Regions from separate parts of the Homo sapiens genome. Here region 1 is reported to be linked to region 2. Evidence: microRNA targets listed by miRTarBase, many of them from high-throughput screens and not tested one by one. Region 2 holds a microRNA gene; the other region holds the end of a gene's coding sequence.

What was found. Region 2 holds the annotated microRNA hsa-miR-6086 (GGAGGUUGGGAAGGGCAGAG, at 2,166-2,185, shown strand). A microRNA usually pairs through its seed, bases 2 to 8, with sites in the 3' UTR of a target mRNA and lowers its output. Matches are read on the target gene's strand: a 7mer-m8 pairs with bases 2 to 8, a 7mer-A1 pairs with bases 2 to 7 and ends in A, and an 8mer does both.
Region 1: miRTarBase lists AGTRAP as a target of hsa-miR-6086. Seed matches in the 3' UTR shown: 7mer-m8 at 1,148-1,154.

What each region holds. Positions count from the first base shown.
Region 1 is chr1:11,749,569-11,753,568 of GRCh38, forward strand. AGTRAP (angiotensin II receptor associated protein) reads left to right here. Exons shown (of 5, transcript NM_020350.5): 5 at 509-1,201. The coding sequence ends at 624. Among named protein-coding and RNA genes, the nearest start is that of C1orf167, 11 kb to the right of the region's middle.
Region 2 is chrX:13,588,128-13,592,275 of GRCh38, forward strand. MIR6086 (microRNA 6086) reads left to right here and starts at 2,165; the gene lies at 2,165-2,219. EGFL6 (EGF like domain multiple 6) reads left to right here. Exons shown (of 12, transcript NM_015507.4): 2 at 1,429-1,541.

The DNA.
Region 1 (4,000 bases), not on the chromosome of region 2:
CGGCCCTGCCTTGGACCCAGCCCCAGCCTCCGAGGCCATCTGGATATGGTAATGTGGTGTCCTTGTACCTGGGAGGGGAGCTGGAGAGGAGTGCGTGGGCCCGGGGCTGATGTCCCTCTGCCCAGGTTCCTAAGCACGTGCTGCCTGGGGAAGCCCATGGCACAGGGGCCAGGAGCCTGGCTTTGGACTCGGCTGCCTAGGCGTGGGTCCCAGCATCATCAGCTTTGAGCTGTGTGATCTCGGGCAAGTCACTTCATCCCTTTGACCCACAGTCTCCTCATCTGTAAAGTGGGGACAATAAAAATACCCGTCGCACAGGGATACGGCAGGATTGAATGAATAATACACGCTAAAGGTTTAGGGCCTGGGGCTGCTGCCTCTGTCTCTGTGCATGGTGTCAGGATGCCCAGCCCGAGGGTGGCGGGGGTGGATCTTGGGTTGGACTCAGCTGAACATCCCGAGTTCTCACCCTTCATTTTTCTTTCCCACCATGTCCCCTGTCACCTAGGTTTCCTTGGGTCTTCTCAGGACCGTAGTGCCTACCAGACGATTGACTCAGCAGAGGCGCCCGCAGATCCCTTTGCAGTCCCAGAGGGCAGGAGTCAAGATGCCCGAGGGTACTGAAGCCAGCCACGCTGCGCCCGGCCCTGCCCCGGGCCTTCCTCGTGCCTGGGAGGTCGTTCTAGGGATGCTCCTGACCTCCGTCTCTTGGACCTAAGATGGAATGTGTCCCCAGCTCAGGGATTGCCTGAACCAAGAGGCCAGGAGCCCCCATGGGCCGCCCAGTACCATGCACACTCCTGTCCCGAACTCCCTGAGGCCTCCCCTCCCTTCAGGGCACCCACTGGTTCCCAGGCTGGAACCAGGGTCTCTCTTTACCTCCTACCCCATGGTGGCACCACAGAGGCCCTCAGCCGAGTCCTGCCTGAGTGTTGCAAGCTCAGGCCTTTAAGGACTGCTGATGCCCCCTCAGGCCTCCCCCAAGTTTGCTGGGCTTTGGTGGAAGCCCTGAGAGCTTCAGGTCCTGCTCAGCCCGAGGAGCAGTCTGGCATGGGAGTGAGGCCCCGTCCTTCTCACTGCCTGGTCACATGGTGCCTAGGGATGCAGGGCTGGAGGCCAGAGGTGTCAGCAACACTGTGTCCCACCACAACCTCCAGCCTCCCTTTTCAGAGCACAGCATTAAAGTTTGGGGAATTCTGTAGATGGGCTGTGTTTTGAACCACCTTCAATCTCCTGGCTGGGCTGGGGCCTGGCCTTGTTCCTGGGAAGATGTCTCCTGCCAGTTCCCAGGTGGAGCCTGTGCTGTGCTGCCCCATTCTGTCATGGCAGGAGGAAACAGGCATGTGCGTTGGCTGAGCTGGGCTTGAGCCTGGCTCTGGCCTAGCAGAGGCCACAGGAGAGAGAGACACTGGTGGGTGTGGTGCGTGGGCATCCGTTTCTCTGAACCAGATGACCCAGGCACTCTTTGGAATCCTGCTCTGCCACTTACTAGCTGCATGCCTTCAGTGTCTTCTAGAAAGGGTTGGTGCCTGCTCCAGGTGTGAAGTGCCTGGCGTGAGGAGGGCTCCCTAAGTGATGGTGAACTTGTTAGCAGTGGACCTGCTCCTCAGGCCAGTGACGATGCTAGGTTAGGAGGCAGGGGCGACCTCTTCCTGGTAGCCCCTGTGTCTGGTCACAGCTGACTTGGGCTGACACGTCCAGAAGTTCCCCAGGGCCTCGGCCCACCCCACGGACAGGTCTAGCTATTCACAGCTTGCTCTTCTGCCCCCTGGGCACCAAGTGCCAGGGCTTTCCCAGGCCATCCTGGCTTGTCCCTGGCACAGGGTCAAGGCCTAGTGCACAACTCCCATTATTCTCTTGCGTCCATCTGTCAATCAAAAGAGGCTCAGTACCTGCCTGGTGCCGAGCGGGCTTGGGGCTGCAGTGGTGACCTTGGGAGCCTGCTCTCAACCTAGGAGTCTTCCCACCTGGAGGATTACAGACAGAGGCAAGAGCCCCGAAAGAAGAGGACATGGGCCTCTGGGTCAGGGAGGAAGGCTGCTGTGGGGAAGGGGCTGTGCTCCGGGCAGAGGGCTGCTGAGCAGCTGCAGTTGTGAGAAACTGGAAACAGCCTCACTGTCGGGAGACGGACCAGTAAGCCACGGTCCATTCATTACAGGGAGTATGGACCAGGAAGCCACAGTCTATTCATTGTAGGGAGTATGGACCAGGAAGCCACAGTCTATTCATTGTAGGGAGTATGGACCAGGAAGCCACAGTCCATTCATTGTAGGGAGTATGGACCAGTAAGCCACGGTCCATTCATTATAGGGAGTACGGACCAGTAAGCCACGGTCCATTCATCGTATGGAGCACAGTGCAGCAGTTACAGCTGTTAAACCAGACCTATTTCCACCAACGTTGGCCCCCCGCAAATGTGAACAAAGCAGATTGCAGAATGGCATTGGGATGAATTTTCAGACCTCACAGCAATGCCATATGTTGTTCCTGGGTGTATGTGCGGTAAAATAGAAAAGCATGGACTAGAAGGACACCTGTCAGGTTCATGACTGTAGCCACCCTGGGTGGAGGAGGAGCGTGACCCGAGGGGAATGGGACTAAGACCCAAGTCCGTTTATCTTGTGTATACAGCATCCTGGCCCCGGGAAGGCTTGTGTACCTGCGTCGTGAACGTGTCAGATTCCCAAAGGGAATGAAAAGCCAGGGCAGGGGCTTGGCCCAGGCAGTGGGGGCAGATGATGCAGCCTGGGCCACGCACAGGGGAGTGTATCTAGACACCTCAGTCCCTCATCGTCCCAGACCCCCAGGTTGAACCGGCTCTTTGCGGGAGAGGACAGAGGAAAGCTCCTGTCTCAGAGTGTACCCCAGAAGCAGAGCCTGCGATGAAAGCAAGGGTGCCAGGCTTTCCAGTCATTGGCTAGGAGCTGCTCAGGGAGTGGGAGAGGGTGGCTTAGATTTGCAGGCACTGTGCCACCCCCCGACTGTGCAGGCAGTCGGGAGCCGGAGGGCCATCAGAGGCAGACAGAAACGGTGGAGGAGGCAACCATGTGGCTGCCCCTTCCACACAGCGGCCTTAACAGGGAGAGCTTCTAACATACAACAAGCGCCCCAGAGCCCACTGTGAGTGAGGCCGTGTTCCAGAGGCAGGGGATGCCAGGGTGCGGGAAAAGTCACCCAGGGGCATTCCATTTAGCATGAGAGGTTCTTGGTGACAGCTAACAAGGCCTGAGGCAGAGAGTGGCTGAGCAGAGAGGGTGGGGGAGGGAGAGAAGAAGACAATGAGGTCAGAAGGTGGCTGGGGTCAGATGTGCAGGCTTAGCAAGTCATTCTGAGGACTCCAGTTCTGGCTGAATGAGATGGGAGCCCCTGGAGGGTGTTGGTCAGAGCCGGGCAAGGTCTGCCTTATATTCTTTTTTTTTTTGAGACGGAGTCTCCCTCTGTCGCCCAGGCTGGAGTGCAGTGACGCGATCTCAGCTCACCACAACCTCTGCCTCCCAGGTTCAAACAATTCTCCTGCCTCAGCTTCCTGAGTAGCTGGGATTACAGGCATGCGCCACCACGCCCAGCTAATTTTGTATTTTTAGTAGAGATGGGGTTTCTCCATGTTGGTCAGGATGGTCTTGATCTCCTGACCTTGTGATCCACCTGCCTCGGCCTCCCAAAGTGCTGGGATTACAGGCGTGAGCCACTGCGCCTGGCGTTTTGTTTTGTTTTGTTTTGTTTTGAGACAGAGTTTCGCTCTTGTTGCCCAGGCTGGCGTGCAATGGTGCAATCTTGGCTCACTGCAGCTGGGTTCAAGCGATTCTCCTGCCTCAGCCTTCCAAATAGCTGGGATAACAGGTGCCTACCAACATGCCCAGCTAATTTTTGTATTTTTAGTAGAGATGGGGTTCACCATGTTGGCCAGGCTGCTCTTGGACTCCTAGCCTCAAGTGATCTGCCCACCTTGGCTTCCCAAAGTGCTGGGATTACAGGCATAAGCCACTGCACCTGGCTTGCA
Region 2 (4,148 bases):
TTAATTCCATTAAAAAATGAAAAAAAGTTCTCTTCAAGAAAAAGTAAATGTTAAAATCATCCTCCCATTTGGTGCTCTCAGTAAATGAAATGTCTCAGACCATATCTTTATAGCTCTTAACTGAGTAATCACATTTGTGGGAGAGGCAGATCTTGAGGGAAATCTACAAGGTTGTTTAACTTCCCGACCTTGACTTAGATATTATTAACTTGCATGAAGTTCAGTTCTGTAGCAGAAAGCACATGGTAAAATGTGCATTCCTTTGTCTGTTAAAGAGCCCAGGAAACATTTTTACAGTGTATTTAATATGTGTAAGGAAATAATCACAGCCCTCCACTAAACATACAATGCAAGTATTTTCCTTCAAAGTCTGGTAGCAACCCTGTCCAATACCAGGACAGTAAGTAGGTAAACATGCAGTGAGCTTCATCCATGGCGGCACTACTTGGGGGCACTTGGTGGGGGACAGGGGGCTCACCTTTTTCAGGCATCTAGATCAGGCAAGCTACAGCCTGCTGGCCAAAGCTAGGTGATCCCCTCTTTATAAACAGCCCATGAGCGAAGAACAGTTTTTACATTTTTAAATGTTAGAAGATGGAGCAAAAGGAGAATACCATATCATGACACAGGAAAATTATATGCTATTCAAATTACAGTGTCCATAAATAAAGTTTTATTGGAACACAGTCATGCGCATCTGTTTACTATTGCCTATGGCTGCTTTTGTACTTGGACAGATATCTTATGGCCCTACAAAGCCTAAAATACTTACCATCTGGCTTTTTACAGAAAATGTTTGCCGATCTCTGCTCTAAAATTAAGCAGTTTAGCAAATTGGGTTTCCAGGAGGTCAATGGGAACGAGCCCTGGGCTAGAATTCCCAACACCCAGCTCTGCTGGGGATGTGACTCCACTCCATTGGACTGGAGTTTCCTCCTCTGTAACATAAGAGGGCTTTGCTGAACGAGCCCTTCCAACTCTTAATCATCTATAGTGTATGTTGATTCCAGTCTATTCAATGGTTCCCAGGTGCCAGTGGGATAAAAGTGCAGAGCTCTGGTCTGGGACAAAGCCACAGGATTAGAAAGTGACTGAAATAGACAAAGAACTGGATAGTTGCTGTGCGTATACAGAGCAGATCTGAAAAGTGACACTCTACAAGGTTCAAAAACATATACTTTGGACATCTTCATGTGCCCTAGTTTTATAGATTCTTTTAACCGTGGGGAAGAAGGAAATGGTTGAAACTAATTATTGAGGAAGGCTGGCAACCCCAAAATTCAGGTTTTCAAAATCTAATTTAGCACTTACTGCGGGTTCGTTGAAATTAACCAGGTAATTGACATCTCTGGTTCTTTTAGTAGTAGGGAAGAGTTTCTGTTGTCTTTTCTATTTTCTCAATACTAACATGTAGTTCTTTATCTGCAGTGCAAGGCATCACGGGTTGTTAGCATCGGCACGTCAGCCTGGGGTCTGTCACTATGGAACTAAACTGGCCTGCTGCTACGGCTGGAGAAGAAACAGCAAGGGAGTCTGTGAAGGTAATTTTGTAAAAACTCAGACCCTGCACTTGGATCAGGGCCCTTAGGTTTTTATCTGTCATACCATGAACTGCCACAAAATTGCCAGTGGATCTCTCAGGCAAGGACATGCATAACTACCAATAACCAAGGTCTGGGTTCCTATGAGATCTCTTCCCAGACAAAATGTGGCTGACGCCATCATACTTGGCATGATTTATTTTAGAAGACTGTCTTGTCAATTATTTTTGTGATTATCTTAATGAGTATGACTGGGTTGTTTGTTTTTGGTTTTCTTTTTAATCTAAAGGAACTAAGATGGGCAAAAGCAGGCTGGTAAATTTCTCCTCTAATTATAATTTAAGTGATTTCCAATGCAATAAACTTTAATTATTAATCACCCAACCAGTAGGCTTCAGCCACAAAATAAGTACACCTTTTAGCTTATAGATTTGTAACTCACATTTTTAAAATTCATACTGCCAATTTCTAAATGCTTTCAAGGTACATATGCATATATGCAAAGATTTTAAGTATTTTGCTGATTTTTTTGTACATTGCAAACCAAGGAACCATAATTTGCCTTGGACATTGTTTCTCAGACTATGTGTTAGGAACTCCGAGAGAGGCCTCTGATCATTTCAAGGAGGTTGGGAAGGGCAGAGATGAGCATAAAGTTTTTGCCTTGTTTTTCTTTTTATGACTTTCCATAACGACCAACACTGGCAGTGTAGCAGAACCAAATCCACATTCCTCCTGACTGTCTCACCAGGGGTGTATTCCTTCAGGGCAGTAGTCTACTCTCACTGTCCCTGTGTCCTTCAGTAGGTAGCATGTGCCTCATCCTAAGTTATTTATCTATTAAATGGGATAACAACACAGTTGCAGGTCCCATAAAAGCACTAACATGTTAGCTATTTTTAGGAATAACAATGCTACCTTCTTTTTGCTAGTCTGTTCCTGCCCCAACCTCCTTCTCTCTGGCTGGTTAAAAAATATCTGGATTGACCATAAGTGGGGTCAGAACTTGATAATATCCAAAATCTATAAAACAATAGAAAACATTGATATCGTTCCCACATGTTCCATATTATGCAAAACCTTCTGCCATCATAGTTTGCTTGTGACAAGATGACAAGAGCATAAAAATACTAGACAAAAACAAAGATCATCATTGCCCACTTAGATAAAGGAAGTTAGAATATCCTCCTGGGACTTGTGTCAATTAAAAGGGTGGGTCCTCATCCTGATTGGATTGATAGTGTCATGATCAAGGGCATTGAGAACCAGACTGACGTGGGTGACCTTGGGCAAGCTAGCTAAGGTAAGCTAGCTAAGGCTCAATTTCCTCCTCTGCAACCTGGAGAGAGCAATACCTACCTCTGAGAGTAAGGAATGTATGCATTAAAGGGTGAGTTCATTACCTGGCATGCATAGAAAATACCTCATAAATTACCATTCCTTCAGGAAGGACCAATAATTCTCATCACAGACTTCTCGTCATTAAAGCACCAGGTGATGGGGGGATTAAATGTGGCTTTATTCTTTTGCTAGACACAACATAACACATTTTTATTTGAAGTCAGTCAGGTGGAAAGGGGCAAAAACCACGTGAAACACATGATTTAGAGTCTCTCTTACAGTTGCACGAACATCAGCGTCTACTGCCATAAAACTTGTGAGACCCAGCATGTCGCTGGTGAATAAATGAAGGCAAGGTGTTAAAAGGGCAAGTGCAGGGGGTTCAAGCAAAATGCTCACTATGCAAGTTTTGCAAGCTGAAGAGACGGTCAGCACACCTACTGCTCCAGTCAAATGTTCAGGTCTTAAATTGCAATGATTTTTAGATCTAAAATGTGTATCATGTTTTATCCAATTTGCATGGTCCTTCTTGATGGTAAAGTCATGTTTCTTGAAGCACCAAATAACAGGGTAGTTATTCCCTGATTGCTGGGTTTCTGATTTCTAAGCCAGAGTTGTGGGATGCATGATAATAAGAATACACATCAACCTGCCCCAACAAGGAGAGCCAGACCCCAGGCTGTGAGGTCACAGTCTACCCAGGCCTTCCCCTCTGTCCATCTATTTGCCCTTCACTCCTTTTGAAGCCCTGCCTCTATGTATCCTGGAGCCTTCTAGCTCTCAGCCTCTACCCTGTCTAAATCTCCTCCCAAGGCAGGGTCTCATCAGTTCGATATCATTAACCTTAAAATGTATGCCACTTCAGTGAGATGAAATACAGAATTGTCCATAAACAAGTACCTGATGAAAAGCTTCAGATAGAGAAGTTTGGGGGAGAACCAAATAAGACTTTTACTTTGTCTAAATCATGCTTCAATCTCAGGCCATTTTAAACACAAACTGAATTTCCCTTGCTGTCGATTGGCTGTTGAAGTCACAGATCCAAAGTTACTGTAAATTGAAAACATCTTACTGAAGCTTTAACCTTATAGCAAGGGTATTATTCACCATTTCTCCTATGTTCTATTTGGCATTTATGCTGGGCTTTCCTGTCTGGACCACATTGGAAATCAGTTTCCAGGGAACAACTAGAGGTCTTCAGGGCTTAAAAAAAAAAAAAAAGATTTATTTTTCTAACATCTGAATTTAAAGTTGCAACTCCAAGTA